Linked DNA regions of Homo sapiens. The protein of the gene in region 1 interacts with the protein of each later gene in a pairwise test. Each region holds a gene or a part of one and is shown on either strand. Other genes may lie near its edges.

The links.
Region 2: the proteins of PNP (region 1) and CAMK2A interact in binary tests that used the Homo sapiens proteins (3 or more experiments, as listed by UniProt).
Region 3: the proteins of PNP (region 1) and PINK1 interact in binary tests that used the Homo sapiens proteins (3 or more experiments, as listed by UniProt).
Region 4: the proteins of PNP (region 1) and SORL1 interact in binary tests that used the Homo sapiens proteins (3 or more experiments, as listed by UniProt).

What each region holds. Positions count from the first base shown.
Region 1 is NC_000014.9:20,464,517-20,472,405, reverse strand, and holds the start of PNP (purine nucleoside phosphorylase), read right to left. Parts: upstream 3,001-7,889; 5' UTR 2,882-3,000; coding exon 2,871-2,881; intron 99-2,870; coding exon 1-98. UniProt on the Homo sapiens protein: Catalyzes the phosphorolytic breakdown of the N-glycosidic bond in the beta-(deoxy)ribonucleoside molecules, with the formation of the corresponding free purine bases and pentose-1-phosphate.
Region 2 is NC_000005.10:150,218,979-150,223,800, reverse strand, and holds the end of CAMK2A (calcium/calmodulin-dependent protein kinase type II subunit alpha), read left to right. Parts: intron 1-583; coding exon 584-812; coding exon of another isoform or gene 813-816; exon of another isoform or gene 817-841; intron 842-1,087; coding exon 1,088-1,091; 3' UTR 1,092-4,310; downstream 4,311-4,822. UniProt on the Homo sapiens protein: Calcium/calmodulin-dependent protein kinase that functions autonomously after Ca(2+)/calmodulin-binding and autophosphorylation, and is involved in various processes, such as synaptic plasticity, neurotransmitter release and long-term potentiation.
Region 3 is NC_000001.11:20,643,458-20,650,457, forward strand, and holds part of PINK1 (serine/threonine-protein kinase PINK1, mitochondrial precursor), read left to right. Parts: intron 1-1,032; coding exon 1,033-1,215; intron 1,216-2,102; coding exon 2,103-2,266; intron 2,267-4,857; exon of another isoform or gene 4,858-5,047; coding exon 5,048-5,175; exon of another isoform or gene 5,176-5,537; coding exon 5,538-5,774; exon of another isoform or gene 5,775-6,976; coding exon 6,977-7,000. UniProt on the Homo sapiens protein: Serine/threonine-protein kinase which acts as a sensor of mitochondrial damage and protects against mitochondrial dysfunction during cellular stress.
Region 4 is NC_000011.10:121,455,313-121,462,351, forward strand, and holds part of SORL1 (sortilin-related receptor preproprotein), read left to right. Parts: intron 1-7,039. UniProt on the Homo sapiens protein: Sorting receptor that directs several proteins to their correct location within the cell. Along with AP-1 complex, involved Golgi apparatus - endosome sorting.

The DNA.
Region 1 (7,889 bases):
CTCCTAATCCAGAACCACAGATTATTGCAACTTGAGGTCGGTGCTTAGTGTGAGACAGAAGCCATTCTGCAGTGTTCTTATAATCTTCATAGGTGTATCTGGGGGAGAAAAAATATCAAGGTGAATTCTGCTCCCATTCCAAGGGCATCACAGACAAATGACCTTCGGTGCAAAAAGGCTGGCAGGTATACTGAGGCAGCAGGGACGGAGAAGCTGGCACAGAGGGAAAGGCCATACTATGCTCTTCCATCTACTCAGCCACCCTTCTTTCTGAATCAAGCCCACTACAAGTCTGATATGAAACTACCTCCATTCTAGAGCCTGGCAAAAGTTAATAAAGCCTGTTTCTACTAACAGGCCCAACTCCAGTGTTGGATCCACTGAACACTGGCAAGCTGCATACTTATCCTTATGACAAAGGTTTAGAGAGGAAGGGGCCAGAGTGTACGGGGAAGTGCAAGGAAATAATCAAATTAGGGAGGGTAAAAGGGCTTGGCCAGGAGGGAGCCCAAGAAGAGTACTCAAAATGGGATTAAGCCCTTCCTGAGGGTGGTGCCCACCTAGTAAAATCCCCCTTATTACCTTACCTGTTCCCCAAAGACATTCAAAATGTAATTAAGACCAACTACTATGAAGGCAGAGATAAACTCAAATTTCCTTTTGAACCCTCATTCCTCCAGTTCCTTCCTCAGCCAAAGACTTAAGGGCTACATTTCTTTTTTGTTTTAACCAATAAAACACAATGGGACCACCCCTGGTAGAGGTCTACGTGCCATTCTTAGCTCCCTGGATCACAAGGGGGTTAATTCCAGACAAAAAACTAGATAAACTGCTGTACAAAAAAGCAGACCCAGTCCACAGTACTGGTTGTCAAAGGTTAAACCAGGACTGACTACACAAATTCTCAGCAGAAGCTTGTTAGAAAAACAGATTCTGGCACTCCAGCCTGGTGACAGAGTGAGACCCTATAAAAAACACACACACACACACACACAAAACCCCCACAAAAAACAGATTCTGAAGCCCATGTAATTTTGATTTTAAAACCAGGTTTAGGGGCTGGGCGCGGTGGCTCATGCCTGTAACCCCAGCACTTTGGGAGGCCGAGGTGGGCGGATCACGAGGTCAGGAGATCGAGACCATCCTGGCTAACATGTTGAAACCCCGTCTCTACTAAAAATACAAAAAAAAAAAAAAAAAAAAAAAAATTAGCCGGGCGTGGTGGCGGGCCCCTGTAGTCCTAGCTACACGGGAGGCTGAGGCAGTAGAATGGTGTGAACCCGGGAGGCAGAGGTTGCAGTGAGCCAAGATCGCTCCACTGAACTCCAGCCTGGGAGACAGAGCGAGACTCCGACTCCAAAATAAATAAATAAAAATAAAATAAAATAAAACCAGGTTTAGGAATTGCTGGTCTGGAGGGAAGCAGAATTCGACCTAGATTCTAGTCCCAATATTGTCTTTTTAGGCATGTAATTTGTGCTTTAAATTATTTTCTCAGGTATAAACAAGGGATGTAAATTGGCCCCATCTATCTTATAGGCTCAATCTGAAAATGAATTGAATACTTGCTAACAACTTCCAAAGACCTATGGCTCTGTTACACAAAGTATTTGAATCTTTCTCCTGCTTTCCACCTGCCTGTGGTCTTCTTCCTGTCCTTCCCCCTCCCTGCCTCCTCCCAGTTTCCTTTCTCTCCACCGAGGATCTTTGCTCTTCAGAAACCTCAGGGCACTTACCCAGAACCCCTACACTAGCAAGAATCAACCCGTGTTACTTTTCTCCCAGTTCCAAGTCCAGTTCTCTCACATCCATCTGGGAAGACCAAACGTTGCTTTCAGAGGTGGCAATGAGGTGTGACAGAGCTGAACACAACTAACCAAGCTTTCACAGGAAATTTTTTACTTGGAAAGCAGAGCCCGGGAAACCAGACATGATTGCACAATACACCAGGCTACCCTCAGGGAAGCAGTTGGATCAGGTAGGTTGGGGGCTGGTCAACGGAGCCACAGGACAATGGAGAGAAGCAATTAAGCTGGTAAAATGTTAATCAAATGGCATCCCCAAAAGGTGCAAAGGAAATGAATGTGTGAAGCTGCCGCCACATGGCATGTCTAGCCACATCTCACAGCACTTCCTCATTGGCTATCAGTCCCCTCAAGAACACCCTGGCTCCCTGGGCATCCAAAAGCAACTGTGATGCCTAATGCAGGTCACTTGGACTGGGATATCCAGGACCCAAGCCGAGAGAAGAGTTTTCAAAGGCGTGGGGTGGGGGAAGTGAGCACAGGACTGTTGCTCAGTTCGGTGACTGATTTCCGTCTCCACTTAGCAGTCACTTCCCACCGAGTTAATCATACTGCCAGTCTGGAAGGAAGGGAGGAGTGCAACTGGCAAAGGAGGTGAGTAATCTTGCCTCTAAAGGAGGAACTCCGAATTTGAGCACCAAAAGTACCTCGCAGCTTTACCCAGACCCTAGCATGGGAATTTATGAAGAGCGCAGGGGGTGAGGAGACCTCCTCCTGGTATGGAGTGAGGGATATATACATATACTCACTCTCCACTTGTTCCCCTAACACACACACGGAGACACACAACGGCTGCTTTTACGGAGTAGCTTAGACCGCACCGACCTGTCCCCTTCCTGCTCCGGTGGCGCCACCCCAGCTCGATTCCCGCGTGCGTCCCTGCCCGCGCTGGCTGCCGCATGACTCTGCCGCCTTGCTCCCGACACTAGGCTCAGTGCCAGGCCTCTCTGCATCCCCTGGGCGCTCGCTCCCTCCGCCAGCTCCCTCTGGGCCCAGTGTGCCAGGTTCCCGGGTCACAGCACCTGCCCCTCCCCAAGGGTCCTGCGGGCCTGGTGCCCTCCTCACCCGTTCTCCATGGTCTCGCAGACGCCTTCTCGATGAGCCTGCTCCGGTGTGCTCCGATCCGCTCCGATCCGATCGGATCCGCTCCGCTATGCTGAACTGAGCAAGGCTGCCGGGTCTGGTTCGCACAGTTGGCTCACTGGTCTAGGCTCTGGCTTATATCCCTTGCCCTGGAGTCCCCAGCCAATGGCAAGCGAGCACGCGGGCCGGCCCTGTCTCCATGGTGACACACCCTAATTCAATCGGCTGAACCTGGGCTGTAAACCTAATCAGAGTTCTTCCCAGCCCTAAACCTTCTGCCCCGGGGCGGGCGGGGGGAGCCGGAGCGCACCCAGCATTTCATCTCGGTACCCATTCCAGTCCGCAGGGCAGGAGTTCCCAGCAAGAAGGCCTATGCGGAAATAGGGCTAGAAGTAGGGAGGAGAGCCCCCAGCCCTCTCCTTGCAACCTCATTCCAGCTGTGTCAATAGCAAACCGTGAGAGATTCAAAAAGGAAAAATTTCATACCTTAGATTGTACAACCCCAGAATAAAAATGAAGCGAGACTGTGTCTGAGTTGCTCCCTGGACAAGGGAAGCTGGGTCGCCCCCGGCAACAGTGCTAACTTGGAGGATACAGGGTTTAGGAGAGCACATCCAGGCCCAGACCGGGAGAAGAAAAAGTTCTCAGGCAAGAATTCCGGGGTCCTAGATGCCGACAGAAAGGATAAGGATGGATTTGGTGGGTAGGGACACAGATAATCCCTTGATCTGCGCAATATTGATCCAAGCAATTCAGGTAACTAGAGGACTCCTCCCACGAAGAAAATTCTGTTATCGGAATACACGGGTACCAGAATATAACATAAATAGCGTGTCTTTGGTAGAATACAACTATTACTTCTGCCCACATTTACAATTTAATTTTTACATTTAATTTACATTTTTACATTAAATTTACATTTAATTTTTAATTTAAAAAATTAAAAAAAAATTTATATATAAAGGCCAGGCGCGGTGGCTCACGCCGGTAATCCCAGCACTTTGGGAGGCCGAGGTGGGTGGATCACCTGAGGTCAGGTGTCGGAGACCAGCCTGGCCAACAAGGCAAAACCCCATCTGTACTAAAAATACAAAAAATTAGCTGGGCGTGGTGGCAGGCGCCTGTAATCCCAGCTACTTGGGAGGCTGAGGCAGGGAGAATGGCTTGAACCCGGGAGGTGGAGGTTGCAGTGACCTGAGATCACACCATTGCACTCCAGCCTGGGCAACAGAGTGAGTAGCTGGTTCCTGAGAACTTACTAGCACTTTGAAAATAACAATGCACACAAATTGAAAAAAAAATTTCGTTCTTAAATAACCACAAACAGTTACTTACGGGATATGTACATCTGTTTGGCACTACTCAACTTCTCACATGCAGGAATCCAATGCTGCCACCCTCATTTTCTGTTCCATGCTGATTTTTACACAGTACTTTTTTTTTTTACTTAATACTTAATTTTTATCAGAGGGACCTTCTAAAACCATCTTTTGTAAAGATATGTTGTCTTTATATATATATATATTTTTGAGACAGGGTTTCACTCTGTAACCCAGGCTGGAGTACAGTAGCACGATCTTGCCTCACTGCAATCTCTGCTGCCTGGGTTTGAGCCATTCTTTTGCCTCAGCCTCCCGAGTAGCTGGGATTACAGGTGCCTGCCACCATGCCTGGCTAATTTTTGTATTTTTAGTAGAGACGGGGTTTTGCCATATTGGCCAAGCTGGCCTTGAACTCCTGACTTCAACTGATCTGCCCACCTCGGCCTCTCAAAGTGCTGAGAGTATAGGCATGAGCTACCACACCTGGCCAGATATATTGTCATCAAAAGGAATGTAGCACAATCTAATGTTCCAACTGTGAATCACCTCAAGTTAATAGGTCACACAGTGTTTAAGAAATATAAAATATTGCTGTGTTTCCTCTGAAAATTAAAAATATTCCACAATACCCTTGTGAGCTTGTACTTTGGCACAGTTTGGGAACCATGGCCCCAGTCACTCCATGCCACCTCATTCCTGAATCTATGTAGTGTAAATGAATGGGCTCTAATAAAACTACCTGTGTATGAATGCCATCTTCACCCCTTATTTACTCGTGTGATTCTAGGCAAGTAAAATTCTTATTATGCTTCAATTTTTTCATCTGTAAAATAGCAATAATCTTAGTATTTTTGCAAGGATTATACAGAATACCTTTTACATGTTTAGGTAAATGCCTGGATATATAATAAGCACACATTAAATGCTGGCTATTATGATTAATCTCCATTGTCTCTTTCTCTTTTGTTCTTTCTAGACTCACCTAACCATAAATTGAATCAAAATAAAAACTAGAGGTATATCCAGCCTATCAATACCAATGAATCCCACACTGTTCAAAACAGAAGGCACTAGCCATGTGTGGCTATTTAAAAGTAATAAAATTAATTAAGATGAAATATAATAAAAATAATTCAGTTACCTAATCATACTAATTACATTGTAACTTCTCGATAGTCACATGTGGTTAGTGGCTACCATATTGCATAGCATAATTACGTTTTTATGCTAGAGCACAGCACTGTTCTTATCTTTTCTAGTCACTGCCACCTTGTATCCACATAAAAGAAACTGGAACTGTGCTTTATTATTTACTTTTAGGGTAAAAGAGTTCCTGTAGCATTCCTATAGACAGGAACCAGACGATCATCAATCTTAGTGTGATTAGAGTTCATTAATGCCTTATTACCTTTTCTTCTATCTTCTCATCACTTCTATCTTCAGAGGGACTCCTTGTCCAGGAACATACTTAGTAACACACTTACCCTCCACCCGCAAGATCAAGGAAACTAAAAAAAAGTGGCAGGAATAGGTTCTAAGTCACTCAGTATTGCCTTGTGGAACGTATTTTATTCCTGCCCTCTCAACTGAGATCTCTTATTCTCTCTAGATCACAAGCTAAATATGCGGTTTTAAAAATATCTATCCCTGGCCAGGCACAGTGCCTCAGACCTGTAATCCCAGCACTTTGGGAAGCCAAGACAGGAGGATTACTTGAGCCCAGGAGTTTGAGACCAGCCTGAGCAACATGGTGAAGTCTCATCTCTACAAAAAATACAAAAATTAGCCAGGTGTGGTGGCATCTGTGGTCCCAGCTACTAGGGAGGCTGAGGCAGGAGAATCACCTGAGCCCAGGAAGTCAAGGCTGCAGTGAGCTGTGATGGAGCCACTGCACTCCAGTCTGAGTGACAGAGTGAGACCCTATCTCAAAAAATAAAATAAAATATCTACTCCCCTTATCACCATAATCTTTGGTCTTCCATTTTCTCCAATTACTGAAATTAAAACATTTTAGGGTTTTTCCCTGTTTTTTTTTTGTTGTTGTTTGTTTGTTTGTTTTTAGATAGGGTCTCGCTCTGCCACCCAGGCTGGAGTGTAGTGGCTCAATCTCAGCTCACTGCAGCCTCAATCTCCTAGGCTCAAGCGATCCTCTTTCCTCTGCCTCCCAAGTAGCTAGGACTACAGGCACGCACCACCGCATTCGCCTATTTTTTATTTTTATTTTTTTAGAGATGGGGTATCTTCATGTTGCCCAGGCTGGTCTCAAACTCCTGGGCTCAAGTGATCCTCCCACCTCAGCCTCCCAAAGTACTGGGATTATGGGCATGAACCAGCACATCCAGCCCTTCTCTTTCTGTTATAGGGATCACTTTTATTTCTCTTTTCTAAGAGTGAGACTTCCATCTGTGCCTCACTCAGTGGCAGGAAGAACAGAGCAGAGATAAAGGACTGGCCTACCACCCTCTATTCCAAAGACCTTGGCTCCTAGAAAGGGAAGCCAGGAATTCCCTAAAGGAAAGAGCAAAGAACTGAGGCCCAGGAAGAGCAAGGAGCACAAGGGAGCAAAGTCCCAATGTAATTAACGTAAATTAATTCTTTAAAACCAGGTCACACCCTACCCAATCCCACCCAACCCCCGGCAAACTACCCCTCGTCTTAGTTAACTCACTCTGCACATTACCAGAAACTTTCTGTGCCTTTGAAATGCAGTAAGGGATTGTGTTGTTTTCACACAGGTGGTAAATTACCACTTCAGGAAAGAGGAAAAAAGAAATAGGGCATGTGGAATATGTGAAAAAAAAGAAATCAGATTGGGACACTTTGGGTCATAGAAGCCAAGCAGATGTTTTCCACCCCATCCTCTGGCCATGTACACACTGTACTAGTTATCACTTTGTTGGAAATCTAAAGAAAAAAATGCTTTGAAATCTATTCTATTATATAACACAATGAAGTGTGTTCCCCCAAATTCTTATATTGACGCTCTAATCCTCATTGTGACTATATTTGGAGATAAGTCCTTTAAAAAGGTAATTAAGTTTAAATGAGGTCATAATGGTGGGGCCACAATCCAATAAGACTGTTGTTCTCATAAGAAGAAGAGAGGCCAGGCAGGGTGGTGCTCACCTGTAATCCCAGCATTTGGACACCAAAGCAAGAGGATCACTTGAGCCCAGGAGTTAGAGACCAATGACCAGCCTGGGCAACATAGTGAGACCCTGTCTCTACAAAAAATTAAAATATTAGCTAGGCATGGTGGCATGCACCTGTCATCCCAGCTACTTGGGAGACTGAGGTGGCAGGACTGCTTGTGCCCAGGAGTTCAAGGCCGCCACAGACTATGACTGCACCACTGCACTCCTGCCTGGGTGACAGAGTGAGACCCTGTCTCTAAAAGCACGGAAAAAGAAGAGAAAGAGGAAGAGAAAGCAAAAATGTGTGTAGAGAAAAGGCCATTTATGCCACAGTGAGAAGGTGGCCATCTGTAAGCTAAGGAGAGAAGCCTCAGGAGAAAGCAAACCTGCCAATATCTTGATCTTGGGCTTCCAGACTCCAGAGCTGTGAGAAAATAAATGTTTGTCGTTTATGCTATCTATAGTGTTTTTTATGTCCTAGCAAATTAATACACCTCAATAGCCTAACTGTTCTCAATCTAAGTGAGAAGATCCCACCCCATAGG
Region 2 (4,822 bases), on another chromosome or scaffold:
ATTCAGATTTCCAGATTCTCTTGAAAAACGAGGCACGTCAACACTGGTCTCACTCACATGGCAACCACCAGGGAAGCTGTGTGCAGGATGCCCTCTTTAGGTGGGACAAGACATTCTATTCGCCACAGTCCCCATCACTCCCTATCGCCTCCCTGACCCAGAGGCAAAGGGTCAGTTGTCATTTAGCATCTTATACCCAGCTCAGCCCCCGTTGTTTATGTGCCTGCCTGGTACCTGGGGGGATCCGGATTTGAGACTGTGCTCACAGCTCTTCTGGTTCTATGATCCTCTAGGCTTATTCCATGTGGCTAACGGTCATGATTCAAACATTCCATTTTCTCATGTTTGATGAATTCTGCATGTCTGAACTCCACTGTATCTAAACTAGGATGTGATGTCCCCATCATCTAGAAGTTCTACCTTGATCCCAGGTAGCTGAGTCCTGCCACACAGGCCCCTTCCCTGCAAATGAGTCAGGCAGGGCGCCTCCATTGAGAGGGCTGCTGGGAGTGGAGAAAGTGAAGAAAGTGAGACAGGAGGCCCCCGGTTGCATCTCCTCTGCCCCTCCCATCCCCTCCTCCAGTGTGGTCCCGGAACAGCAAGCCCGTGCACACCACCATCCTGAATCCCCACATCCACCTGATGGGCGACGAGTCAGCCTGCATCGCCTACATCCGCATCACGCAGTACCTGGACGCTGGCGGCATCCCACGCACCGCCCAGTCGGAGGAGACCCGTGTCTGGCACCGCCGGGATGGCAAATGGCAGATCGTCCACTTCCACAGATCTGGGGCGCCCTCCGTCCTGCCCCAGTAAGAATCCCTCCTTCCTGCCTCCCAGGGTAATGTAAAGGATGGGAGTGTTGCCCTGGAGGGGGTTACGTCGGGGAAGCTGCTGCCTTCAGCTCTGAAAGGCTGCAGAGTGGGGTGGGGAGACCCCAAGAAGGGGGCCAGGCCTGCAGGTCTGGGGGAAGAGCTGGGCAGGAGCCACCAGGGACCGCATGGACTCCATCTAAAGCGGCAGGGTGGGTGGGTTGCCCAAGCAGGAAACACCATGCCCTGAGAAGCACCCCGTGTGTGTCTTACAGCTGAGGGACCAGGCTGGGGTCGCTGCGTTGCTGTGCCGCAGAGATCCACTCTGTCCGTGGAGTGGAGCTGCTGGTTCTCCCAGGTGGATTTTGCTGGAATTCTCCCATGTCATCACCCCACCACCGTCACTTCTGTACCTGCATCAAGAAAACCTGCTTGTTCACAAAAGTCATCGCAACTTCAGAGCGAACGGCCACATCTCCCCACCTCTCACCCCCACCCTCTCCCCTGCCAGGCTGGGGCTTCCTCAGGCATGGGTGTCCACAGCACTGGCCCCCTCTCCCCAGCCTCAGCTGCTGTCCGCCTGATCTGTCTTGGGCTGTAGGCTAGAATGCCCGGGCTGGTGCCCACCAGGGGCTGGGGAGAAGGAGGGGTGGCATGATGAGGAAGGCAGCATCCGTCCGTCCCTCTCCCAGACCTCTCCTCTTCCAGTGTCCCCGGGGAAGGGCAGATGACACTCCCTTCCCCCTAAGCCAACCGCACTGAAGGAGTGGGGAGAAGAGCATACGCCAGGAGCCTCCTGCCTCAAAGTGCTCCCCTAAGTCTTCTTCCTCCTGTGCTGACCTCAGGGTGGTCTGACCCTTCCCTCGGTGTGGGGGATGTGGCCCTCTCAGGTGCCCCTACTTGCTTTCTGCTTCCTTCTGGTGAAGTCCACCTCCAACATTAACCTGCCCACCCCACCCCCGTCATCCCTGGAGAATTCCAGCTTTGTCGTATCTCAGAGAGGGAATCTAATTGTTTTTGGGGGGCAAAAGAAAGCAACGTTTAGGTATCACTTCTACTTGGACCGCATGCCTTTTTATAGCCAAATTTCTGTGTATTTCGTAAATGGATTTCGCGTTAATGGATATTTATGTAATAACTAGACTTCTCAGATTATTGTGAGAAGGGTCAGGTTGGAAGGGGTGTAGGAAGAGGGGTGAGGGGTAGTTTTTTTCTGTTCTAGTTTTTTTTTTTTTTTTTGTCATCTCTGAGGTGGACCTTGTCACCTGTGGTTATTGGGGCCAAGGTGGACTCAGCTCCGGGGAGAAGGGCCTCTCTGCCATTTCGGTCCCAAGGTGAGCTGACACAGGCGTTCCTTTTGGGACTGTGGAAGCATCAGATGCCAGCACTGACTCAGGAACAGCAAGTCAGGGCAGAGAGGAGGAGGGAGGCTGTCAGGATGGAAATACCTGGACTTTTCTTTGCTTCCCTCGCAAACTGGGGTCTTCTCTACCGAACTTCCCAGGATTTCATCTCACCATATCTGTGTGCCGCCCCCAGCACCCCCCACCCACCTCTGGGGGGCCCGTGAGCGTGTGTCTTCATTGCCTCTCTCCCCTTGGCGTCTGATGACCACAGCAAAGCACTGGGAATTTCTACTCTTCATGCCTCATCCTGCAGCCTCGGGTTCGCATTCTCTCTTTCTTTTCCTCTTTCCCTCTTTCCCTGGGATTGACTCTGAGTGGAATACCTTGGCACATCCACTAGGATCTACTGTCTGCACTGTTTTCTTTGCATGACTTTATACGCAGTAAGTATGTTGAAAACAAACAAAAAGAAGAAAACACTCAACAAAACCAATCTACATGTTTTGGACTAAAAAAAAAAATAGAGGTTGTATTCTCAGTGTCCGACTCGGAATTATGTTGCTGCCTCTCTGTGCTTTTGGCCTCTGTGTGGCCGTGTTTTGCCAGCATGAGATACTGTCCCCTCTGGAGGATTTTAGGGGAGGAAGAGCCACGTCCCCAGGGATTGGAGGAGGCTCCGGTACCCTCGACCCTCCTGGGTGTTGGTTGGAGCAGAACTGGTGAGGATGTTTGATCCGAGATTTTCTGAGCTCTCCCCAATCACCAGCTGTCTGCTGGGTTCTTTTCTCAAGTCCTGCTGCCCAGGCCCAGGTGAGACAGGCAACGCCAGGTCTGCAGGCCAGGAGAGATGCTGCCCAGGCCTCCTGGTTTCCAAGCTGGTCCATCACTGGCCTCTGTCCTTGGCAGAGACCTTGCTGCCCAGGCCCAGGGGCAGGCTCTTGGCCTGCCCCAGGCCCAGAGGGCTTCCCAGTAAGGCCCAGTGATCCCATTATCCCAGGGGCAAAACCACCTGTCCCCTTTTGAGCTGCCAGTTCCCTACAGCCATCCCCAGTCAAGGGTGAGGGTGTGGCCTTCACCAGGGGCTGCTGTAATTACCGAGCAAGGTCTGAGCTCTTCTTCAGCCTCAGTTCCCTCATTGGTTAAAAGGGTTCTTTGTTCCCATCCAGCCGATGAAGGAGCAAACGTCTGGCTATGTGAAGCCTAATTTACCTGCAGGAACTGGCAGGGATAGTCACTGGCTGGACTCCTGTTTACTTCTAGACCTGGTCAGGCTCCATCCCCTCCCCCACCTGCCCCTGATTCCCCTCGTCGGTGCCTGTCAACTGCTTTTCAGCAGTGGACTGCAGGGGAAAGAGCAGTGATTTGGGGTGAGTAGGCTTCAATTCCCAGCTCTGACCAGACTTGCTGTGTGACCTTGGGCAAGTTCCTTTCCCTCTTTGGAGCTTGGTTTCCCTGCCAGAGGAAACTGAGCTGGAGGAGCCTGAGGTCCTGCCTTTCATTGGCTGACACACCTCCTGTCCACTGTGTCACTCTCCAAGTGCCAGAGAAGTGGAGGCAGATCGCTACCCCAGGCTGAGATGGCCCCCACTGTGAAGGCCACGCCTGTGGGTGGGCAGCCACCTGGTGCCACCACAGGGCACCAGGGATGATCCTGATGTGGCAGGCAGGGGAGACTCACAGAAAAATCTGCCCAGAGCCTACCCTCACCAGACAAACTCTGTGCTCCTCCAAAACATCCTTTAGATGCAAAATAATAATAATAATAATAATAAATAAATAAATAAAAATCCAAACCCAAGTCAAAACCTTGGCTCCAGCATGAAAACACGTTTACAGGAAAGTGTTCTCCTGGGTTTGTGCCCACCATGGTGCGAATCCTGACCCAAGGCCTCCTGTCTCCCTTCAAAGGGAGACCCTTTTGGGGGATGAGTTTGCCAGACTCCCCGTGCTGGTTTCTTTGTTACTATTTGTTTGGGGTTTTGTTTTAGTTCTTTTTTTTTTTCTTTTCTTTTTTAAAAATATGTGGCTGTGAACTTGAATGAACACTGCTCAAACTTTCTGCTATTGGGGGGGGCGGGTGGGATGGGAAGAAGGGGCGTTTGTTTTATTCTTGGTGTTTTCAGTGCAATAAATAGCTACAAACTTCTGTGCACTCTGTGTGTCCCTGTCTTGGTCAAGCCCCTGAGCTGGGAGGTTTTTGTTAGTTTCCAGTTCCAGATCTGCCCCATGGCAAAATAAAAGTCCTGGTCTTCATTCTGATTGGACCAACTGTGGTCACATGCTCAAGGCTGAGCCAGTCACTGTGGGATTATGCCTGGACCACATGCCCCACCTGTAGAGCCAGGGATGGGGTCAGCTTTCTCCCAGGCACATGGGGGTACCCTCAACAAGAGCAAAGGGGTGGCTATGGGTTGCCTGAGCAGCCAAGAGCTAAAGCCTCTCTTGGGCCCTGGGGCAAGGTTCTTCTCCTCTGGGCCTCAGTTTCCCTGTACAATGTGGAGGTTATTCCACAAGTCCCCCACCCATTCTCTTCCCTCAGCCCAGCCTCACAGATGAGTGCTCAGGACTCACCATGCCAGAGAGTGCTTTAAAGAATGGGGAAGGGGAGGAAGGGTCTCTTTACCCATAAACATATGTCTGGACCTAGTGCCTGGGACACTTTGG
Region 3 (7,000 bases), on another chromosome or scaffold:
TCTATGCCAACTACTGTACTAGACTTGGAATAATGGAGAAAATTCAGGCACAGTCCTTGCTCTTAGGGAGCTCACATGATTACTCATTGATGAATATCTCTCTCCCCTGATAGACTGCAAATCCATGAGGACAGGGACTCTGTCTTGTTCTGTGCCATAGTTCCACAGCATTCCAGCATGATGTCTGGTACTCAGCATGCAAACAGTGCGTATTGGTTGAATGAATAATAGTACAGCTAATAGCAGCTGAGAGCTTCCTCTGTGCTAGACACGATTCTAGGTGCCTTCCACACTTTGACAACCTTATGCAGCGTGTTAACACTGCATTCCCCTTGCACCCTGGAGATTGAGCCCAGAGAAGATAAGGACAGAGGGGACACATTCCAAGATAGATCCCCCAGTGGATGCCTGAAGCCACAGATAGTAACAAACCCTATATATACTGTGTTTTTTCCTATACACACATACCTATGGTAAAGTTTAATTTATAAATTAGGCACAGTAAAAAATTAAAGATAACTAATAAAATAGAATAATTATGACAATATACTGTAATAAAAGTTATGTGAATGTGGTCTCTCTCTCTCTCCTCTCTCTAAATATCTTCTTGTACTCACCTATTCTCAAACTGTAGATAACTGAAATTGCAGAAAGCAAAACTGTGGATAAGGTTGGGGCTACTGCAACTCAGCCAAGGACTTACAGTGGCAGACCTGGAATGCAAACCCAGGCAGTCTGATACCAGGGTTTCTCCACCTGTGTTCTGCCACATGGGATGGATAGGATGGATGGGTGTACGGATGGACGGACGGACAGACGGATGGACAAATGGATTGAAGGATGGGTAGGGGAGTCATCAGATGTGTTCTCCAACACCATGTACAGTACCTGGCACATAGCAAATCTATGATAAACATTTGATAGTAAGTGAATAATGAATGTCAGTGCCAGTGTTGGTGTGGCCTTAGGTTATTCTTTCCAGGTGTTGTATCTGATGCTGGCCTCATATGTTTGTCTCACTTGGCTGACTAGAAAATCCAAGAGAGGTCCCAAGCAACTAGCCCCTCACCCCAACATCATCCGGGTTCTCCGCGCCTTCACCTCTTCCGTGCCGCTGCTGCCAGGGGCCCTGGTCGACTACCCTGATGTGCTGCCCTCACGCCTCCACCCTGAAGGCCTGGGCCATGGCCGGACGCTGTTCCTCGTTATGAAGAAGTAAGTGACAGCAGCGCGGCAGGGCCTGGAGCTGATACATCTCCCAAGGGGAGCTGGTTCCTGCCCTCCATGTGCACCTTGATCAGGGGGTTTTGGAGAACAGGGTCATCACCCTTCCGGAGAAGAAAGCCATGCAAAGGGAACATATCTGCCCTGGAGAGCATTTTCCCTGTAGGACGATTTTTCATGGAAACAAACTCTCATCTTCATCCAGAACATACTTGTCACCTAGTCCTTTTGGTCCATTTGACTGTTAACCTTTTCTGTGGCTGGACTTATCTGTTTTTAACATAAAAACCGTTCTCCTTCCTCACCCTCTGTATCCCCTAACTTTGCTATAGTGGGTATTTTATTTTAAGGAAATAATTATCTGCACCATTACTTTGAATATAGGGAGCCCCAACTCTTACTTCCTAATTTGAGGATGGTGAGTGGGAGGGAACAGAAAGGATGCTGGGGAAAAGTGGGAATCAAAGTGCTCCTGGAAGGGGAAGAGGAACGGCCTAACCCTAACAGTGATTAAGGTTATTAGGAGGCCGGGAATGGTGGCTGACGCCTGTAATCCCAGCACTTTGGAAGGCGGAGGTGGGTAGATCACTTGAGGTCAGGAGTTTGAGACCAGCCTGGCCAACATGATGAAACCCTGTATCTACTAAACATACAAAAATTAGCCTGGTGTGGTGGCGGGCACCTATAATCCCAGCTACTCGGGAGGCTGAGGTAGGAGAATTGCTTGAACCTGGAAGGTGGAGGTTGCAGTGAGCCAAGATCGTGCTACTGCACTCCAGCTTGGCGACAGAGTGAGACTCCATCTCAAAAAAAAAAAAAAAAACGTATTGGGAGTCGTCGATGTGTGGTAGCCAGAGGCCCTCTCCCCTCTCCGCCAGCTATCCCTGTACCCTGCGCCAGTACCTTTGTGTGAACACACCCAGCCCCCGCCTCGCCGCCATGATGCTGCTGCAGCTGCTGGAAGGCGTGGACCATCTGGTTCAACAGGGCATCGCGCACAGAGACCTGAAATCCGACAACATCCTTGTGGAGCTGGACCCAGGTAGGAACCTGCTGCACCATCAGAGCTCTCCAGGGGCACTAGAGGGTGGGTCAGGAGCATTTAGGACTGACTCTTCAGGTCCTCTCTGGTTTTGTGTTCTAAGTCATGTCTTTATTTAGCTCCGCACACAAGAGGTTAGCAATCTCTCCCTTAGAACGGGGTTTTTTTTTCTCTCTTTGCAGAGAGACAGCACTTCCCAAGTTCCTTTCTCTAGCCCACTTAAAGAACAAGGACCTCAGTGCTGCAAGTTTTCCTAGGTAAATAAAGAGGCCCGGCACAGTGGCTGACACCTGTAATCCCAACACTTTGGGAGGCTTGCTTGAGGATTGCTTGAGGCCAGCAGTTTGAGACCAGCCTGGGAAACAGAGTGAGATCCCTTCTCTACAAAAAAAAAATATGTTTTAAATTAGCCGGAAAAAAAGTTAGCCAGGCATGGTGGCATGCACCTGTAGCCCCAGCTACTTGGGAGGCTGAGGTCGGAGGATCACTTGAGCCTAGGAGTTAAGAGTCTGCAATGAGCTATGAATGTGCCACTGTACTCCAGCCTGGGCAGCAGAGTGAGATCCTATCTCAAAAAAATAATAAAAAATAATAAAGTAAAAGAGAAGTAGACTTTAGCTCATTATAAAAAATAACTTTCGGCCGGGGGTAGTGGCTCACGCCTGTAATCCCAGCACTTTGAGAGGCTGAGGCGGGCAGATCATGAGGTCAAGAGATCGAGACCATCCTGGCCAACATGGTGAAACCCCATCTCTACTAAAAATACAAAAATTAGCTGGGCATGGTGGCGGGCGCCTGTAATCTCAGCTACTTGGGAAGCTGAGGCAGGAGAATTGCTTGAACCCGGGAGGCGGAGGTTGTAGTGAGCCGAGATTGTGCCACTGCATTCCAGCCTGGCGACAGAGTGAGAGTCCATCTCAAAATAAATTAATTAATTAATTAAATTTTTCAAACAATGAAAGCTGTCCAAATGTAAGCCCAGTTGCCTCTGGAAATGAGTTGCCTACCACTGGAAGCATTCAAGTAGAAGCTGAATGGCCACTTGCCTAGGAAAATTGTAAGGAGATTCATACATCTGATAAATTTTTGAACTAGAAGATTTAAAATAATTGACTAGAGGAACTGGCTTTTATTATTTCTTTATTTATTTACTTATTTATTTATTTATTTATTTGAGACAGAATCTTGCTTTGTTGCCCAGGCTGGAGTGCAGTGGCGCCATCTCAGCTCACTGCAACCTCTGCTTCCCAGGTTCAAGCAATTCTCGTGCCTCCGCCTCCTGAGTAGCTAGGATTACAGGCAGGTGCCACCACGCCTAGCTAATTTTTGATTTTTTTTTTTTTTTTTTTTTGAGACTGAGTCTCGCTCTGTCACCCAGGCTGGAGTGCAATGGCATGATCTCGGCTCACTGCAAGCTCTACCTCCCAGGTTCACACCATTCTCCTGCTTCAGCCTCCCGAGTAGCTGGGACTACAGGCGCCCACCACCACGCCCGGCTAATTTTTTTGTATTTTTAGTACAGACGGGGTTTCACCATGTTAGCCAGGATGGTCTCTATCTCCTGACTTCGTGATCCACCTGCTTCGGCCTCCCAAAGCGCTGGGATTATTATTTTTAGTGGAGATGGGGTTTCACTGTTGGCCAGGCTGGTCTCAAACTCCTGGCCTCAAGTGATCCACCCACCTCAGCCTCCAAAATGTTGGGATTACAGGTATGAGCCACCACGCCCAGCTGGGAGTTGGCTTTTTTTTTTTTTTTTTTTTTTGAGACGGAGTCTCACTCTGTCGCCCAGGCTGGAGTGCAGTGGCATGATCTTGGCTCACTGCAACCCCTGCCTATCGGGTTCAAGCAATTCTCCCGCCTCAGCCTCCTGAGTAGCTGGGATTACAGGCACACGCCACTACACCTGGCTGATTTTTGTATTTTTAGTAGAGACGGGGTTTCACCATGTTGGTCAGGCTGATCTGGAACTCCTGACTTCGTGATCCGCCTGCCTCGGCCTCCCAAAGTTCTGGGATTACAGGCGTGAGCCACTGCGCCCAGCCAGGAACTGGCTTTTTAAAGGAATTTTGTGTGGACCCTTTTACAAATAACCAATTCTTTTTTTATTTTTTCTGAGACAGAGTCTCGCTGTGTTGCTCAGGCTGAAGTGATTCTCCTGTCTCAGCCTCCTTCACCTCCCAGGTTCAAGTAATTCTCCTGTCTCAGCCTCCCGAGTAGCTGGGATACAGGCACACACCACCATGCCTGGCTAGTTTTTTTGTATTTTTAGTAGAGACAGGGGTTTCACCATGTTGGCCAGGCTGGTCTTGAACTCCTGACCTCAGGTGATCTACCCGCCTCGGCCTCCCAAAATGTTGGCATTACAGGCCACCACACCCGGCAATAACTGATTCTTAATGCACCTGGTTCTTAGGTTTGGATTTGGGGTTTCAAATTCAAATCAAAGTCTCCTGGGGTATAAGGGCCCTTGGAGATCATTTGAACCAAGCTCTAGCTCCTTTGGTCTTGGGGACAGCTCCAATTACTAGAACATGATTTAAATTGAGCCACACAGTCCTTTGCCTGGGGATTTTGCAGCCTGTACTTACTGGAGGCATTTCCGTGTTCGCACAGCAGGCCCTTCTGATCAGCTCTCAGGCCTTGCTGACCTCCTGGGCCAACACTGAGCCATTAGCCCCTGTCAGCTATGTCTTGCTGGTGGCTTTAGTAGGGACATAGGAGGGCCTCTCAGAGGGAAGGAGGGGAGGAGAAATGGTCACTTTGCTTGCTCCTTCCCAGACGGCTGCCCCTGGCTGGTGATCGCAGATTTTGGCTGCTGCCTGGCTGATGAGAGCATCGGCCTGCAGTTGCCCTTCAGCAGCTGGTACGTGGATCGGGGCGGAAACGGCTGTCTGATGGCCCCAGAGGTGAGTCCCGAGTGTGTCATGCGCCATCGGCAGCCCTTCCCCCACATGTCCACTGAATGCAGGAGACTCGATGCCTTGTGATAACCCAACACCTCCATCTTTTCTGACCCATAATTTGGCACAAGTTCCTTCCCTGCCACTTTGCTTTCCTCCGGCGTTCCCTCATGTTCCAGGAGAATGCAAGTCCTGTCACATAAACCAGGTGGTCTAAGCAGACCCCTTCTGGGTCTGAGCCACAGCTCACTCAAGCTCTGGGTTCCTTGGGACAGAGTTCAGATTAGCCCATGGATCAGGTGATGTGCAGGACATGAAAAGGTTAGATGGGCGGGCAGCGTGATGTCTCACCCACTGCTTCTGAGCAGGTGTCCACGGCCCGTCCTGGCCCCAGGGCAGTGATTGACTACAGCAAGGCTGATGCCTGGGCAGTGGGAGCCATCGCCTATGAAATCTTCGGGCTTGTCAATCCCTTCTACGGCCAGGGCAAGGCCCACCTTGAAAGCCGCAGCTACCAAGAGGCTCAGCTACCTGCACTGCCCGAGTCAGTGCCTCCAGACGTGAGACAGTTGGTGAGGGCACTGCTCCAGCGAGAGGCCAGCAAGGTGAGGCTGTCCCCGGCTTCGAGGGGACGGTGTGGGTAGAAACCTCTGTTCTCGTTCCAGAGTGAAGGTCAGGTTTGGGCCAGAGCCACAGTGACAGATCCTCTGTGTTAGGAAGGTAAAGGCTAGTTACAAGAGAACAAAAAACAGATTTTAATGTAGGTAGGAGTAGGAGCACTAGCCACCACAGCATAGTCAGAATCCTAGCAGTTCAACTCCTGTGGCTTTTTTAGTTGCTGAAAAAGTTGTTCAGAGGCCAGACACGGTGGCTTACACCTATAATCACAGCACTTTGGGAGGCTGAGGCGGGTGGATCACTTGGGACCAGGAGTTCCAGTCCAGCCTGGCCAACATGGTAAAACCCCGTCTGTACTAAAAATACAAAAATTAGCTGAGTGTCGTGGCACACGCCTGTAATTCCAGGTACTCGGGAGGCTGAAGCAGGAGAATCGTTTGAACCCTGGAGGCAGAGGTTGCAGTGAGCCAAGATCGCGCCACTGCACTCTGGCCTAGGTGACAGTGCAAGTCTTTGTCTCAAAAAAAAAAAAAAAAAAAAAAGGCTATTCAGAGAGAGAAAAGGAGGCATTTTTGAGAAATGTTTAATGGAGATGTAGCTCATGGAAGCAGCTGAGAACTGATCAGAGAGAGATGGAAAACATCTCCTGAGAGCAGATCTGGACATTGTGAAATTAATATAAAGGAATGCAAAGGCAGACCTATCCGAAGCCATAATTGGAGTGGCAGCTGGCTCAGGGGCAGGCTTAGTGCAAAGAGCTGAGCCATACCTGCACCCCAGCACTGTTCTGCCACTCCGTTAACTGCTCTCTGTACGTGGCCTGCTATCTTGGTGCGCAGTGAAGGTTAGAACAACAGCTGCAACCAGTTATGAAATGATAGAGGAGACTACTTACCTGGTTCAAGGGACCAGATAGCTGTGCACAAGAGGCACTAGGCTTTCCACCCAGGGGGAAAGGCTATTTCAACAATGCATGCTGCCCCATGCAGAGGTGTACACATGGAAAAGCTTGGAGCACGGGCAGGGGACAGGCAGTATTTGTCACCTGAGTGAAGGGCATCAGTAGGAGATAGGGTAGAGGAAGAATTGGGTTGGGACCAGAGAAGGGAAGACCCTCACTAACAAAGCAGGCTTTGGGTTGAGACTGTGTTAACAGATGTTCTAGCTACAGCTTCCCTTCCTGTTGCAGAGACCATCTGCCCGAGTAGCCGCA
Region 4 (7,039 bases), on another chromosome or scaffold:
GGCTCAGACACTGTCCAGCTTCTTGCCCTCTGACCTTTGAGTGAGGTTAAGAGGACACTGGCAGCACAGGTTAGGGCTGGAAGCAGAAGCTGCCTGAAGGAAGCAGGCCTAGAGGCGATGTTAAGGCCACCACCTTCAGGGAGAAGAGAAGGGAAGGCTTTCTAGGGGAATACTTGCATCTGAGAAAGAGCCCTGTGCTGGAGTCAATGTCGGTCCTTTTTCCTCTGCTTCGCTAATGTCTTGGGTAAACTAGGCTTGGTTATTTTGACCATTTTCCTCCTCAGTTTCTCTAAGGTGGGGAGACCGGCTTCTGCCATGATTACTTAAAGGCACATTTATGATACTGAAATGTGATTGTAGGGGTGAAAATAATTTGCTGGCAGATATCAGGACTTTTCTGCCCATGTTCAAGGCTCACGCCTGTAATCCCAGCACTGTGGGAGGCCGAGGCGGGTGGATCACTTGAGGTCAGGAGTTCGAAACCAGCCTGGTCCACATGGGGAAACCCCGTCTCTACTAAAACTACAAAAATTCACTGGGCGTGGTGGCAGATGCCTGTAGTCCTGGCTACTCAAGAGGCTGAGGCAGGAGAATCGCTTGAACCCCGGAGGCGGAGGTTGCAGTGAGCCGAGATCGCGCCATTGCACTCCAGCCTGGGGGACAGAGTGAGACTCCATCTAAAAAAAAAAAAAAAAAAGGCAAAGTTTAGAAGTTGAGCCCCTTCTTAAAGGCCAGGTCCAAGAAGAGGGATTCCCTAATTCATGCCACACTGAATTTCCTCCTGATTTCTCATAAGCTCTGTCTGTCTGCGCCATCATACCTGCTTTTTCCTCTGCCTGAAATGATCTTCCCCAACTCTTGTCCTTGCCTGGGAAGCTCTTATTCCATTCTTTAACATCCAAGGAATACCTCTTGGTATTCTCAGGCTATGGTGGGAAGAGTTTCTTCTGAGCTTGGAGGCAGCACTTACTGCCTTGTGTTAGAATTGCTCAACTGTCTCATCTTCCTGTTTGCTCCTTGAGGGCATGGATCAAGTTCTCTTGTGTTTCCCTGGCACTTGGGAGGCCCTTAATGAGTATTTGTGGACCAGCCACACACCTGGAAGAAGAGAGGCCCAGAGGGTAGGAAGCACATTCACATTATATAAAATGTATTTGTAAGGAGGAATACAGTGAACCCACACATGGATAGTGAAAATGAGATGGCTCATTCGGTAGTGAGGATGCAAGCGGCATGGCCTACAGATAGTGGAGCCCTGATTTGCCTGTGCTATATGGGAGTTATTTTCAATGAAGAGCTTGGATTCTATTTTACAGAATCCTCCCTTTTAGGGCTATCATTCTGGTTTATGCTAATGGTATTGTTTTGGGGAAAAATCCTTTGGAATAAAGCACAAAGCCTAACAGGATTTACAGGTTTATTTTCCTTCCAACAAGCTCTCTCTTCATAATTCCTACATTTTAGAAGCCAGGGAGTATTCAGTGTCCTGATTTGAGACTGAAAATAAAGTGTCTATTACAGCACAAGGCCCTGGGACAAAAGGCCTCCTTTGGGGGTGGAATACCGTTCAGCTTTAGATCTCTTTTGAGTAGATTCTTCCATGATACACTTGCTTGGGAAAGAATTGGCTGGTTGATTCTGAAGTTAGGATGTTTGACCTGTGTGCTTCCAGAATAAGATGAGAAGGCAAAGAATGTGCTGCTTCAGGTTGGCTTTTATGTAGCTGAAGAGTTGCTCGGGGCCTTGGGTTGGCTCAATAAGGGACGTGACCTTGAAAAGCTCTTCCTGGTTCCACTTGGCGTCTTTTCTTAGGGAGCTCTGTGCCCAGTCTCTGGCCGCTTTTAGTTCATAAATAGCTTGCATGGTTAGAGGCACAGAAGGTGGAGGCTTTGCGAGGGGGAAGGAATGGAGGAAAGGGGTTGGTGAGAAGAGTAAGGAGGCGGAATTTGGAGGGATGAAATAAAAAGCTGTCTGATTAGGTAATGCACGTTTACAAAACAAAATTTGTACAAAAGCGTATGTGGTAACAAATTTCCTTCCCTCTCATGCCCCCTGTTCACCCAGAGCTCCTTTCCGGGTGGCATCCGTTGTTATCAATATTTTTGTATATCTTTCCAGAAACAGTCTATGCATGTACAACATGTATGTACATAAAATTGGAAACTTGAATTATAAATGGCTTCCTGTTACCTGTAGTCCCTGGTATCCTGAATAATGAGATTAACTTTAGCTCTAAATTATATTTGTGATATTATGATGGTGAATTGTTAGAAAATTACCTGAAGTATCATAATATAAAATAGATGATTACTTTTTTTCCAGGCCAGGTGAGAAAAACCTCATTCTCCTTTCACTTCAAGCGTTCTTGCAGAGCAGGAGAGCAGCCTGATGTAGCCCCCTTGTAACTTGGAGAGATGCTGGAGCACAGTTCCCTTGAGATGTGGAGTCCAGGCTTGTAAGAGCATCAGAATACAGTGATCATGGATCTTGGTTTTAATTTGTGTTCTGTCTGAGAATGTTTTCTCTATGTTCTGTAAAATGAAGTTAATGGTATGCTTAATAAATTGCTTTGAGACTTGGGATCCACGAGGCAGATCCTTATAGCAACGAACATCCCAAGGCAAAAGGTGGATGTTGTAGGAACATTTCATTGTCAGATTTTGGTCTGTTCCTCCTTAGAGATGACAGCCATCTTCATAGTGTCATTGTTGAATCCCAGGGCAGAGATAGTTGGAGCCAGCTTTGTTCCACCCACTGTAATGGAGGGACACAGGGGGCAGTCTTATCATAATCTGGAGAGCAGGTAATCCAAAAAATAATCGATTTGCTTTTGCTATGTATTTATGTAGTCTTTTTTTTAAAGCATTCGTTTACCTTCCTAATTAAGTTTTGCTCAGGTGAATATTAAAATGAGTTTGCATTCTTTGATCTATTGATAAGGGAAATGGCTGGCCTAAATGTATTCAGGGAAAGGCAGTTTGGAGTTTAGAATTTGCGACAATAATTCAGATGCAGATAATTGAGAGTTGATAAAAATGTATTAAATGTTTTAAATGAATAAAAATGTATTAAAACCTGGGGGCATTACATTGACCTTTCCTCCATTTATTTGGATTTAAATAAATGTGATGGAAAGTAAAAGAGAGCTCACTGCATTTTTGGTTTGAATATTCAGGGATTAGTATTTCTCCAGAGGTGGTCTGGGCTGTGGGGGTGAGGCATTCTCTGTTGATGAGCATGGGACTTTCCTATGCATTTTCTAGGTATGCCAGACACTGTTGGCAGATGGTATAGTCAGTCTAGCCACGTACATGCAAAAATCAATTTCCCTCAATTTAAAATGAGCCACAGTTAATTTCGACCTAATTTATTGGCTTATCGACCTGTGAACCCTGGGCCTTCGAAGAAGTGGCATGGGCGGCCTTCAAGCGCTGAAGTGGCTGATGAAGCTAAAATCCAGAAAAGGCAGGGTGGGCTGCTGAGCAAGATCAAGATTTGAGTTTCCTCCTGTGTTATTGTGAGATGCTCAGTTTTTTTTAACTGTAACATGACCAATGCTTTGTGCATTTTATGGTGGGTTCCGTAAAAATAGGACTGCGTAACGATCACAAGTACACTAGTGTGTTAAAAAATAATTACAAAGTTCTGTTATCCACTGGGTAACTGTTTATTATAATGGTAACATCCATGCCCATAGCACTGCTACTAGCCAAGAGCTGGAAGATCCTATCTTCCTGGCCGCGTCCTGGACCCTCCGATGTGGCACTGTTCAATAGATCTTTCTGTGATAGTGATGTTTTCTATCTGTGCTGTTCACCATGTTCACTAGTCAGATCTGGCCATTGAGCAGGTGAAATGTGGCAAGTGTGACTGAAGACTTGAAGTGTCTTTCATTTAATTTTAACGAATTTAAAGTTGAAATAGCCACATGTGGCTCTTGGCTACTGTGTAGACAGCACAAGCTTTGACAAGGCCTCTTCTTCCCACCTGTAGGCAACCTCTGCTTCACCCAAGAGAGAAGTTCCTGCAAAGACCTGCTCGTGTAGGCAGGGCAAACAGGGCAATAAAAGCAAGAGTGGAGGGCTTGGGTCTAGACCCTAGGTATTGGTGGCTGCTGACTGCCAAGTTGAGTGTCAGGAGACAGTGGTCCTTCTTTCCTAGGTAGGAACTCACCAGGGGGACCGTGGAGGGCCAAGTGGGTCCGGTGGTTGGCTCTAGGGCATGCCTCTGCACAGTTGCCTCCTTCTGTCAGTCACTTAGTCAATGAAGGCTGGCTATTCATAGGGTGAACCAGATCTCTGTGGCTTCACTTCTCATCTGGCCTTGCGCAAACACTGCACTTGTATCGGGCTTTGCTAAGGTGGAGCGCAGACCCTGCACGTTCTGTTTAGCAATGAAAGATGTAAACAGTGCCTTAACAGTGGGGCCATCTCCCTGCCCTGCCCTTTGCTTCCTGTGCTTTTGTTGACTTACCTTGATGTAGCTGGGTCTGTCTTTCTTCCCTTCAACCCTCCAGATTGGCATGAAGACAAACACTACAGGCGTGTGGTCTTCATCTTTGCATATAAACCTCCCCCACTTCTTGGCTGACCTTTTAACTTAGCTTGCCATTGCTGTTGCTGCTGCTGCAGGCTCTTAGCTTGGAAAATCAGGACCCTTCACAATGATTTATCTCCAGTCCCCTGAATTAGATTCAAAACACAGCTACGAATTCTCAGAAAGGCAGGCTGATGTGATTATATCCCAAATCTGAGTGGCTGACAAGGACAATAAAAAGATGTACCTATATCAAATGCATTTGTGCCGTGTAGAGACCAATATGTTGTTTATTATCTCCCCCCCTTTCTGGGGGTTTTTTAAATGAAGAAGGTAACTGATGTGACCTCTATTATTTAGAAGAGAGACTAGCCTGTTGAGTAGAAACCCTGGGGGAAGATGACTAGGGTGAATCTTACATGAAATAAATGTGGGGGTGAATCAATGGGTGGGCCCTCAGTTGGGATTTTAATATTTTAGGGATACTGAGATGATTTCCTTCTGACTTTGGGGGGCTGGTGAGCTGAGGTGTAGTGTCATGATGAATTTTTTTTTTTTTTTTTTTTGAGACAGAGTCTCGCTCCGTCACCCAGCTGGAGTGCAGTGGCTCTATCTCGGCTCACTGCAACCTCTGCCTCCCAGGTTCAGGCGATTCTTGTGCCTCAGCCTCCTGAGTAGCTGGGATTACAGGTGCGCACCACCACGCCCGGCTAATTGTTTTGTATTTTTAGTAGAGATGAGGTTTCACCATATTGGCCAGGCTGGTCTCGAACTCCTGACCTCGTGATTCACCCACCTTGGCCTCCCAAAATGCTGGGATTACAGGTGTGAGCCACCGTGCCTGGCCTTGGTGAAATTTTTAACTCTGTGCCCAGAGGCATTGGAAAGGCTGGTATGATCTGGTTGAGCCTGGAGGGCCCTGGGTTAAGAGCCACCTGTGGAGAAAGGCTAGCTTGGGGACTGTGGCTGGGAAGACTTTAATAGGTACCTGTGAGATAGCAAGCTATAGGGTTAAGGTCCCAGATAGTTAAGGACCCCATTTCTCTATTAGCCCAGGAGACACATGCGAGACAGTTCCACCTGTCTCTGCCCCAGGGACCTGGGGAGAAAGGCCAGTGCTGATCTGCCCAAGGATCTCAGCCAAGGAGCCCGAGATGGCAGGGAGTGGGGACAGAGCAGAGTGGGGTGAGTGTCCTGTGAAACCAGAAGTGTTTGGAAGGACTTGCATGCTTTGAACCTGTGCTCAATTAATTGAGTAACCTGAGACTCTGTACCTATGACTTACCTCATCTGTGTACATTTAGTTCCCTGAAATTCTCTCACTGAGTGGTTAAAAAAAAAAAAAATCTGCAGTTAACTGTGCACATGGTTTGCTGAATTTGGCAAGGTGTGCTGTTGGTGGTGGTGGTGATGGGTGGGCTGGAGGGGGACGGTTACTGCAGAAACAAGGCCTTCAATCTCTAGAGGAGAAAAATGAAGCAGTGGATGTGGAAAGTTGGTTAGAGGTGAAAGAGCTATCTAAACAGAGCTGGGGGAGTTTAGCTAGCAGACCAGAGCCTGTGGGACGTCCGCCTGTTGCCTCACCTCCTGGTAGCCCAGAGGGCATCTCCTATTACTGAGAAATTGGCCAAGCCATGGGTTTAATGCACTCCCCCTTCTCCATTAGTCTTGTTTATAGCTGCCCTCACAGGGTGGTGAAGAAGCCACTGGTAGGGTATAGAGGCCTTCGGTTCTGGGATGTAATGTTTACATGCTTTTCTCTTGGAGTTAGGAAAGTGCTAGAAAACAGTGTCGCCTCTGGGCTGGAGCCTTGGGACCTGGAGGTTGGGTTTCCCCAGGTTTCAGAGTTCGGCTGGGAATCAAGGAGAAAACTGCCTGTGAGTTTCAGTTAGGCAGGAGCTCCTAGCTTGACTCAGGCGTGCAGTGTTTTGTCATTTTATATATGTCATCGCTTGCTCTTAGGCCTTTCGCTAATGTTAATGTTCTATGTGGAGCCGTTTTGTGAGGAATGGCTTATTTTGGTTGAGAGGCATTTGGTAATGAAAAGAAATGATGTTTTAGTGCGTCGAAGTTTATGAAATGACATCCACAGGCTGCATCTCATTTGATTCTTACGACAATCTTGAAAAATGGGGAAGATAAGAATGATTATTCATCTCATTTCAGAGATGAGTATCTTGAAGCTTGAAAAGGTGAAGTGACTTACCCGTAGTTAGACAGGTGGTAAACCGGAGAGAACAAGACTCAAACCAACCCGCTAACTTGTTTCAGATTTATGCAGGCATATTTGTCTATCCTAAGTAATCTAGTGAAATTTTTGATCTCAAGCAGGGATCCACAGCTTTTTTGCAGTACTTTTTTTTCTCCACCTTTAAAACCTGGAGATCTCACATAATTCCACTTTCTCCTGGCCACACTGATCTTGTAATTTTTCAAACACAGCAAGTCTCAAGGCCCTTCTCCTTCCTGGCTTCTGCTCTGCCCTGCCTTAGGTCTGGGTCCA